Regions from separate parts of the Homo sapiens genome. Here region 1 is linked to region 2. Evidence: fine-mapped expression QTL. Tissue or cell type: gastroesophageal junction. Region 2 holds a variant in brackets; the other region holds the start of a gene. All regions are shown on one strand. Distances are between the middles of the regions.

Region 1 (5,368 bases), 49 kb before region 2:
ACATTCTCTCAGTTAATTTTCACAGCCTGTCCTCAGTAAGGTATTGTCTACCTACATTTGATACATGGGAGAAATTGAGCCCTACTGACTTTTTGAAATGTGTCCAGGCTCTCATAACTAATACATGGTGGATCTGGGATTAGAACCCTGGAGTCTGCCTGCACCTCCAGAGAAAATTCTTTGAACAGGTCAACTCAAACCTGTGACTTTTCAGAGAGGAGAACCTGTTCAGCATTCTTCTTTTGTTGTATTCATCCCCTCTACAGTTACACATTATCTTAGAGGATCAGCTGTACAAAATTTAAGATCACACAATTCACTTTGTTTTCTTCTTGACCCTCATTTTTTTAAACTTGGGATTTAATTTTTTTCCATTAAGAATGTGAAAAGAATGAGTATTGCCTTCTCTTTCTAGTCCTGTGGTGGTTTAGGAAGATCCCAAGAAGGGCTGAACTTCCAGGGCTCCTCCTGGGAGAGGGGGCAGAACAGAAGGAAAGATTACACCTTAGCCTGTACTCAAGGGCATTGCTTGTAAGTCTGTCCAACCAGAAGAAAGTTCAGATCCTTTATTTGTGAGCTGGATTATACCTCTGGAAGAGAAAAAAGGGAGAGACAAGTTTTACTCCCTCCTGGAGGCAGATTTCTCTACCTTGATTTTTTCAGAAATTGTGTACATTCTCTCCTCTCATGTATGTATCTCCTACATACCATACACACGATTCTTCTCCCCCTTCTATACCCCAGCCCACGCCAACCCACACCCACTGTTCTCTCTTCCAGCTATGGATCAAGGGAAATCTTCCCGGGTCCCTAGTTGGTATCTGTTTTCATAGCATCTTTGGGGAGGTTTTGTAAACAAAGCATTGGTAGAAGGGCCCTTGGCTGATGGGGCCATAAAGTGCCCTTTCTTTGGTTTTGTGCTCTCCCTCTCTTGTGGGGCCAGTCATTTGAATCCAGAAGATATCCCAGGATGGAGCTGCCCTGAGTATTTCTGTGGCTGGTTGGAAGGCTGGCACACAACAAAGTGGGCATGCAGCAGGCTGCCTCCCTGGCTTAGGCCAAAAAAATAAAGCAACTCAGAGATGGAGAAGAGGCAGGAAATCTATGTTGTAAAAAGTCTTTGTTTAAAGGAATTCCGTTCAGGTGCTGAGAACGGGGTGTTCAGCAGAAGAGGATAATATGAGTAAACATTGGCAGTAAGAACAAACACAGCAGTATCACTGTCTGCGTCTGGCCTCCTCCTGTGCTCAGTCACAGGTCTCTCCCACCGCCCTCTATGATAGCAATCATAAACAACATGTAGAAGGGCTTTACAGTTCACAGACCTCAGTTCCCCTCAGCGGCACTTCCTTGCAGGGTTTCTTTATGCACTGGATGACCCTGGTTCCACATAAATGAAAACTGGGCTTAAAGGACACATCCATGTCCTGGGAGCTGTACAGACTTAAAGAAAAACCTAGATAGGGGCAAAAATTGGGGCAGGCGGTGGGGGTGGGGGGTGGGGGGTGGGGGGGGGGAAGAAGTGGTCGAGAGAGTCATCTAATAGGTCACCAATGTTGCTTCTGGGAGGTTGCCGGAGGGTTGGCTCCTTTCAGCCAGGTTTAGGGCCAGGTCTGGACACACTCAGGAGGCCGGTGGCTGAAGGGCAGAGGGCAGGGTGGAGGCCCAAGTGAGGCCAAGGAAGGAGTGGATGCCGCTGGGGCTGGCACTTCCTTGGCTTCTCAGCGTCCTGGCAACCAAGAAAAGATTCCAGGAGTCGACTGGTGGCACCAATGCGAGAAGCCCCGGGCGGATGAAAGAAGCTGACCCGTGCGAACCCCCCACCCCCTCCACAAAACCAGGAGATTCCTGCCCAAGAGCAAGAGATGGAATTCCCCTAACGGAGGAAGCTGCCGACCTAAGGGCTGGGACTGGCAGCGCGCCCTCTCCGGGAGCTTCAGGTCTGGGGCAGCCTGTGCAGGCGCGGGTGGAGGCCCGGGCGCGTCCCTGGGGGCGGGAGCCAGGGGCGGCCAGCAGGTGGGGCCTGGGAGCTGGACTCCGCCCCCCGCTCCCTCCCCGTTGGTCCGCTGCCGCTCAGCACCGGCCCCTCTCCCGAGCCGGAGCGCGATTGGTGGCAGCGCTTGTCGCTCGGAGGGGGCCGGGCCGCTCTGCTTCGCGGCTCTCCCCGCCGCCGCTGCCGCTGCCGCTGTTCTCCTAGCAGCGCGGGCCGGTCGGACCGCCAAGGCAGCCGGCGCTGGCGATGGGAAGCGGCGTGGCCGCCGACACAGGCAGTGGCAAAGTTTCCCAGACGTACACATCTGGACGCGCGGCTGCCGGCTACCCGTGACCCCTCTAGGAAGGGTTCAGGGATTTTTAATTTGGAAAAAAATCCACCTGGTTTCCTTTGTCAAGGTCTCTCCGGGTGGCCAGCGGCAGGAGCTGCAAACTTGGGCACGGCGGCTACACCGGCAGCGGACCGGGCTTTGGAGAACCTCGGGACTCAGGTGCTGAGGTGCCCAGCGGCTCCGGACGTGCTACGGGGTGCGAGCGCGGGGGAGTTCGGGGCGCACGACAAGGAAGGGCCCCCGGGAGCTCTATATGGAGGAAGGAGCCCAGAATGGTGTGCACCAGGAAGACCAAAACTTTGGTGTCCACTTGCGTGATCCTGAGCGGCATGACTAACATCATCTGCCTGCTCTACGTGGGCTGGGTCACCAACTACATCGCCAGCGTGTATGTGCGGGGGCAGGAGCCGGCGCCCGACAAGAAGCTGGAGGAAGACAAAGGGGACACTCTGAAGATTATTGAGCGGCTGGACCACCTGGAGAATGTCATCAAGCAGCACATTCAAGGTACGGGCGCCCCGGAAACTTGGGTCGCCCATGAGGCCCGGGAGTGCCCCGCGCGGCGCGGGGTGCGCTGGGGCTGGTGCGCATCAACTCAGCCACGGCGGGGCTCTGGGGCCGCAGATGCGTGGTAGTCGTGGGGCCTGCGTGTGAGCTCCTGCCTGCGTTCGGGACCTTCTGTCTGCGGCCGTGCGCTCTTCCCCGGGGCACACGTGTGTGCGCAGGGCTGCACGAGCGGATGTGTGCAGCTAGCTGGCGGTATGGGGGCGCGCTGCGCACGTGTCCAAATGTGCGTGTGACTCTGGGCTGGTTGCTCGCGGGCTCTCGGGATCGCACACAAGTCCGGCTCAGAGTGTGTGTGCATGTGAATGTCTGTGTGTGTACAAGAGGGAACGCGCGGGCAAACGAGCTTTTTTGGCCACTGTAGGCGTCAGGCGAGATGCCCGCGCGGCGGCCCTGACTATTGGCAGTTAAGACCCGCAGGCTGCCGGACAAGCGAGGCTAGGAAAATTGCGTTGTATCAGCCCCAGCCCCAGTCTTGCTGTGATCCCGTTGGTAGGCGATAGGGAATGCAAGGAGCCCTCTGTGGTTGAAAAGCCGCTTGAACCTATAGCAGTCCCTACCCCCACCACAGCCCGCGGGTCCAGGACCCTCTCCAGGAGCAGGTGTCAACGCCGGGAAGTAGCGCTGGAGTCTCTGTCCACTGTGGTGATGACTCCGCCCAAGACTGGAAGAACACGCCCTGGGCTGCGCCTTCCCCGCGGAGCCGCCCGGGACCGGGTGAAGGCCGATCCCTACTGTAGCTCCACTCTCAGGCCCTGGGAGCAGCCGGGGCTGAGCAGACCTGGGTTGGGTCTGAAGTGTAAGGTTACGCTGGTTGGGTGCGCTCCAGACCAGCGCGGGGGTCCAAAGGGAGGGTGGGGGTTGCAGGGCGCTCTCCCGAGGCGACCTGGTCAATGAGCTGTCATGGGAGGGAATGGAGTTCCGGGCGCCAGGAGCACTGGTGCCGGGTGTGCACACACACACACACACGCGCGCGCGCGCGCGCTCACGTCCACACTTCCTCCCCTCCCCGCGCCCCCTGCTTTCTTCCAGGTGTGTGAGCTTCTTAAGGGCAGGGCCGAGCTTGGTTCCCCTGTAAACCTAGCAGGCCCACCAGGCTCAGGGGCCAGTGCATGGCAGACCTTGGCAAAATCGAATTGAACTGAAGGCTTACCCCCCACCCCCCCGCCAGGAGCACTCCCTTTTGTTTACACGTGGATGTCTGAATTCCAATCCTTGCACCTGCTGCTCTTGCCAGAGTAGAGATGGCTCCTCCGTCTGAATTTGGTGTTTCCCCAGGTGTCCAGAATAGTTCCTTTCCAGGAGGGGAAGGTTCAGGGAGGTTCAGGTGAGTGCAGGAGAGGCATCCACATCCATAGTGCTTCCTGACTAATGACTTCAAAACAAGCCCATGGCTTCGGCACCTTCCCAGAAAAGAGGGACATTGACAGCTTCTTCTTCAGACCTGCCTCTGCCTCTCAACCTGGCACTGGGCTTGAAAACCAATTTACCTATCTGTGGGTGCCAGTTGCTGTTATTTCTTACGTGTCCTTTTCCATCCCATAGGTCTTGATTGACTATTAATCAGCAATAGAAGTACAGTGTTTCCCCCAGGGTGATTCAGAATGTTCCCCAGGAGACACAAAGCCATGCCTTACTTTGACATTTCTAGTTTGCCGACAGATTTTGAGATTTTCATTCACAGATTCTGTGTGTGTGTGTGTTCCTGGAAAATGATTCTCTTGTGCTTTTCTTTCTGGTCAGGCAGGAGGTGAGCAAGGTACTGCTTTGGGGATGCTTTCAGGGGATGCCATTAACCCCTGAGCCTGTAACGGAGTGGGTGCCAGTCATGTGGAATGTGGACCATGTCACATGATTTCTAAGGTTCCACATGGAAAAGCATGATGTTGAAGTTGAAAGGAAGCATTGTGATTTTTCTCCCCGGAAACTTTATAACTATGTGTTGTTCAGCACTTTCAAATCTATACCTGAAAAATTGGAGAAGATAGGTTAAAAAAATAGGAGACAGGGTCCCTAAAACACGTGTTGTTCCACTTGTACACGTGCAATGACCCCTGTGGGTATTCAGAAATAACCACAATCTCGACAGAGGGCCAAAGCTGCCACCTATAGGAAGGTAGGGAAGGGTCAGTGACTTGGAAAGACTGGAAATGAGGCAGGCAGGGGCAGAGGTTACCAGGTTGGCTGTGCCATGATGGTGTAGCAATGACCAACAGTTCCCTTTGCCATGCTGGGGCCATCCTGAGCTGGGATTTAGGAAACAGAGGTAAAGGGCCTATAAAATTTGGGGCTGGTCAAGTGCAGCTCTCTGAAGGCAGAGGGTGGTAAAGGACAATAAGATCAAGCTCTTGTGCTTGATGGTACAAGCTGTTTATGTGTAACCCACTGTCAAGTTCCCTCTAGTCAGCATAGCCCTTTGAACAATCCAGTTTACTTTGCTGAACTGGAGGGAATAAGCGGTAATAATAATAAGAGCTAAA
Region 2 (5,368 bases):
TGGAGTGGGACAAAGGTGCCTTGGTCCTCCTCCCAGCCCCACACCCCACCCACAGAGACTGTGACCGTTCAGTGGCTTACAGATGCAATGGACTGGCTTCCACTGCCCCATACCCTGCCAGGAATTAGTTGTGTTCATGGTAATGAGCTTGGACCCTGGAAGCTCTAGACTGGCTTAAATAAACCTCTCTTAAATGTTGGATTTATGATGCATTTTGCATAATAGTAGCAGTACTCAGCCAGGCACATGCTAGATAGATGAACCCAAATACTTAAAGAAACCTGGTCCAAGAACACCAATGAAAAATACCTCTTGATAAATCATGACTATTAATTTGCATGCTTTGGGTCTGAGAGGCTGGAGCAAACAATTCTTTAGCCTCCGGGGAGTGTTGAGCAGCAAACCTTTATGAACGCTCAGAGTAATTTATACTAATGCTTCTGCTCTGTCCTTGCTTTCCTAATACGACTCCTTTGCTGGGAGAGATATTAAATTGGCTCCATCTGTTTTGTGTGGATCTCTTAGCTGTCCTGCAGAAGGGATTCCCCTTGACATCAGCTCCTGCCTGCACCCAGAGTGTCTTTTGCTTCCTTTTAGCCATCTGGTAGGTGCTGGTAGATGGACTTTCATGATAGGAGACAGGCCTCAAACCTAAATAAACCTCATGTGACGTCATGATGGCCATGATGCTGTGGATTCCTTTAAGTGGATGAAAGCCCAAGCTAGAAGCCAGGTGTGATGCTTCTTCCTGGAAGATAGGACATCATGTGGCATAGCCAGAATTTGGATGTAGTTAAGAATTGAGGGAGGTTCTTATGTTTTGATATCAAAATCAGACCTTTAAGTCCAGACCAGGGAGATGGTTCACCCATGGTACCTATCCAGCCCTCAGGTTCTCTACTCCCCCAGTCTAGGGAGCAGATTTGACCAGATTTCTGGTCTGAGCAGGGCTGGGATTCATTTGTAGCCTTCAGAAGCCATCTACTTTCTCCAGTGCCATCTATAAAGTGTAGTTCCAGTTTTTTGGGTCTGACCTAGTGTGCAGTTGTCCTATAGGCAACCTCAGGGAATGGTAACCTCTCTATCACTCATGTACTGATAGAACTTCTTATGAGGCAGTATGTACCCTTCCTCTCCCATGGGGCATGGGGAGCCACATACCTACAATAATTGACTTGCCTAGATTGTCCTCTGATTGTTGAAAGATGCTACAGTGTCATGTGGAAAGCTCAGGCTCAGGGGCCTAGATTTGAATGTCAGCTCTTTCTCAGAGTAGTTAGGTGACCTTGGGCAGCCATCCTAATTTCTCTGAACTCTGCCTTCTATAATGAGATGTTGATAGAATGAATGACCCCTCAAAATGCACCAAATGAAGATGGTGCACAGAAAGCCCCAGCACAGTGCTCAGCACCCCGCCTTCTGCAGTGGGAAGGATCGCCGTCCAGCCTCGGGAAGTCACCGTCGACGCTCATGCATGGGCATCTTCCAAGTGGGTTTATTGAGACCATGATGAGGATACAATATAGGAGATAGGATATCCCCTTCCATCTCATGAAGCTTTTGGCTGGAGAGAAATTCTTTCTCTCCTCGGAGATCCTGCTGTTTTCTAAAGATTGGTTCATAGCAGCTTCTTGTTCTCCACCAGCCTCTTGCTGATCCAGCTGGCACCTCTTCCTGGGTGGATCAAGGCTCCTGCTATCCTTTCCCCTTTGCTGGGCATCAGGTTCTGCATCTGTAAAATAAGGAAAATAAGACCTAGTCTGGCATGGTTGCTGTAAAATTTTAATATCGTTTGTGAGCAAGTTCCTGGCACCAAGTAAGTGCTCAGTTAATTGTGGCTTTTCTCCTTGGCTTGGCTGATACTTAGGTGGGCACATGTACCTTAGTGTAAGAGAAGGAGCAGGCAGAAATCCCTTTTATTTCAGTCTGCCCAGCCTTCCCACAGGCACTGTGATGCTGCGGCCCCACCCGGGGACAGAGAGCTCCATCTTCAGTATTGAAAGCTGTGTGTAGGGAATCTCTGGGACATCCATGTCAAGTATGAGTCAAGGCCGCCCACCATAATGAACATGAACATGCTCTCTGGAGGGGCGCTGTAGTTCAGAAAGGCAGGGTTTTGGAACCAGTTCAATGTGAATTCAGACCCAGTGTCCACTCCTTGCTGGCCCTGGGTTACTTTCATTAGTATCTCTGAGACCCAGGTTTCTCATCTGTAAAATGGGCTAAGATAACGTCCTCCTTCATGGGACTACTGTGAGGACTAAGAGAAGTGACCACTTGAAAGAGTTTTGCACAGAGTAGGTGCTCAGTAAATGGTAGCACCCTCTCCTCTTTGTCAAATGTACAAATTTAAGGGGCCATTGTTTTAAGACTTCTCAATATTTTTGGTCTCCAGCCTTGGCAATTCAAAATGGCAACTCATGCCCCAGTTGGAGTTGTTACTGCCATTGTGTTTTTCTTCTTTCCTGTGAGCAGAAGCTGGCGCCTGCTTCTGCATCCTAATAGTTGGCAGGAAGGCGAGGGTTGCGAGGGCCATCTGTTCCTTGTCTTCCTCAGAAGGGCACCGGGCAGCCATGTTGAATGTTCAGGGGTCCTCCTGCACCATTGCTCTGTGTAGAACTTCACATCCCAATGCTGTCAGAGAGGGACATAGCAGGAAAGCTGAATCTAAGACAGCTTCTCACACAGACACAGCACTGGCCAGGAGCGACTGTAGCGGAGCCAGGGCCCTGACTCATGCCCAAGTTCACATCCCAAGCTGGGTGTCTTTGGATTAGCTGCCTAAACTCTGTCTCGGTTATTTACCTTTAAAACAGAAATA[G/A]CAACAGTAACACACTCATACAATTTTCATGAAGACTAAGTTATTCAGGCAAAGTGCTTCATCTGGTGCTGACAGTTGATAAATGTTAATTCTTGTTATTATTTTACTCATACCACCTCCCTTGATCCCTGAAAGCCACCCAAGGAGCAAGCAGGCCGTGTATTTGTGTACCCCTCTTCTAGATAAAGAAACTGAGGCCGAGTGGTTACGTGGTCAAGGATCCCACAGAAAGGAGTGGCTAGGCCTGGATCCCGGCAAGACACTACATGCCAACAGCATCCACACCACTACTCGATGATGCCCACGCCCTGCGGCACAGGCCTGCTTGCACAGGGAGAGCTGGAGAACCAGGAAAATACAGAGTCCTGTGCCACACCTCAGATCTGCTGAATCATGCTCTTCAGTGGGGGAGCCTGGAAATCTGTATTTGTAAAGTGCTTCCCAGGGAATTCCTATGCCCAGTTAGTGTGGGGTCTGTGGTCTACACTGCTGGGCATACAGCTCACTGTGTTTCCCCAGGGCAGAGGGACAGGAAAGGGACTCTGGAATGAATAAACACCTTCACAGTCTGTAGCCAGGCAGATACTGTCGTCAGTAAGTTTTAGAGAAGCTTGTGGAAATGCAGACATAGGGTCACTTTAACACACACCAATTTTTTTTTCCAGGTCATTGGATATCTTTCTAGATAAAATAACCTCATTACGTGTTATGGGATTTGTGGAGAAAGTCTATTTAAATAGGATTGAAACATCCTTTGTCAAAATATTCTTGTCAATTAGCCTGGACATGGCTAATTGACAAGAGGTGGCCAAAGCCAGCTCAGCCCATTGCAAGGGCTCCTGGACATGCGGTTGATCTGCACAGTGGGCCTCACTGCCCAGGAAGAGGCATGTCCCACCAGAAAGCTGGTGTTCACTGGGAACTCTGACTTTGATCTGACCTAGTCATTAGAGGACTAGAGCCTTGGGGGGCTTCTGGAAGCACAGGCACCCGGACTCAGAGAGCAGAGCTAATTTTGAAGAGTTAGATTTATCACCAAATAACCTCATTTCCCAGCCTGCTGAGACACCTATTGCAGACTCATTGGTTTTCTGTTTCCACCACACAAAGTCAGGGGTTGATTCTCCAAAGACATGCCCTTGGGACCTTTTCCTTTTGTGTCTGAAGGTAGCTATACACACAGCCCAAGGGTCAGGCTGCCTGGATTGAAATCCTGGTCCTGACACTGACTAGCCAGGAGCTGTTGGATAAACTGCTAAGTTAATCTTAAGCCTTGATTTTTTTCATCTGTAAAATGGAAAGAATAAGACTGACCTCATTAGGTTGCTGTGAGGGTTAAATGAAGGCAAGAAAGGAAGCAGGCAACAAATTAGGAGGTTCTTAGGGTGGCCCATGGTGACTCAGTTTAGCATGTTGAATCACACACAGTGTGCTCAACCCAGGAAAACTTGGGGCCCATGAAAAACACTCAGTGGATGTTAACTGTTACTAATACCTCATGTCTTTAATATAGCATGGGTTTAACTGGTTGGTAAGAGGGAAGATGTGGGGATAATTTGGAGAGTAACTCTTTACAGGCAAGTAAATTACCTGTTCATTCCATTGTTCAACAGTGTGCTGAGCCCTGAATGTGCCAGGGACTCTGCTCGTGCTGGGGATGCAATGGAGACCTGAGATCATTGCCTTTTCACAACACTTGGGCTGAAGCCTGATATTAAATGGGTCAGTACACATTGCAAGAAGTGCAGTCAAGGCAAAAAATGGAGCGTGTGAGAGAAACAAGGTGTAAGTAGGGAAATAAATCCTTCCTGAGCTGGGGTGGCCAGGGGGAGCTTTGAGACTGTGATCTGAAAGGAAGAAGAGCTGGTTTGGTGAATTGTGGAAAAAAGCTTTCTAGGCAGAGGGCAGGGTCCCCCAGGAGGAAAAGAAAGTATGTTATGGTGTGTTCAAGAAACCTAGGGAGGCCAGTTAAGGGCAGGGCAGGGGCCGGACGGCCGGATGAGGCTTGGGTCGTGCGCAGAGGCTAGATCATGTGAGGGCTGGTGGGCTAGCTGTAAGGAGAGGGAAGCAGATATGCACAGTGCAAGCCCAGCCAGGGCGTCTAAGAAGGGAGGAGACACAGGTCTGCAGTGCTATCAGGTTGTTCTGGCCACGGCATGGAGAACAGAGCGGGTGGAGGGCAAGAAAGGAAGCAGGCGACAAATTGGGAGGCTCTTGGGGTGGCCCATGGTGACTCACTTTAGCACGTTGAATCCCACACGGTGTGCTCAGCCCAGTGCTAAGCTCTCCAGGGCAAACCATGGTTCCTGAGATGGAGTTCTCTTTTCCAGCCAGTCCGGGGCTCCGCCTTCTGGACACTCCCAGCCTGGCTGAGCTCCCTCACGTCTCTGCTTGCAGAGGAAACAGGCTCTTTCTGTGTGTTTTCCCAGCCAGGAAAAGTCCAAGCCACACTCCCTCACTTCCTGAGTGGCCTGCTCTGCTTCTGTCCCTCTTTATAAATGTCCCCGAACCAAAGTTCTTCTCTTTCCTGAGCTTTTCCTGTCTCCA

Alleles and levels. Positions count from the first base shown, and alleles are read on the strand shown. Sizes are in standard deviations (SD) of each study's normalised expression.
As copies of G replace A in region 2, the expression in gastroesophageal junction of the gene that starts at base 2,185 in region 1 goes up (moderate effect, 0.51 SD a copy in GTEx).

Evidence for each region.
Region 1: it holds the start of GALNT18, and the variant in region 2 is fine-mapped to the expression of GALNT18 in gastroesophageal junction (GTEx, PIP above 0.99). The same link has a PIP of 0.9 or more in aorta and esophagus muscle.

The regions. Positions count from the first base shown.
Region 1 is chr11:11,618,822-11,624,189 of GRCh38, reverse strand. It overlaps GALNT18 (polypeptide N-acetylgalactosaminyltransferase 18), which reads left to right and starts at 2,185. Exons shown (of 11, transcript NM_198516.3): 1 at 2,185-2,831. The coding sequence starts at 2,597. RefSeq lists silencers at 1,883-2,242, 2,993-3,072, 3,093-3,162 and enhancers at 1,745-2,245, 2,363-2,442, 2,653-2,702, 3,443-3,672, 3,743-3,882 and 1 more.
Region 2 is chr11:11,569,889-11,575,256 of GRCh38, reverse strand. All of the region lies in intron 1 of GALNT18 (polypeptide N-acetylgalactosaminyltransferase 18), which reads left to right. GALNT18-AS1 (GALNT18 antisense RNA 1) reads right to left here and starts at 5,292. Exons shown (of 2, transcript XR_007062595.1): 1 at 5,060-5,292; 2 at 1,480-1,732. RefSeq lists an enhancer at 4,454-4,953. The variant G/A (reference allele first, on the strand shown) is at 2,822.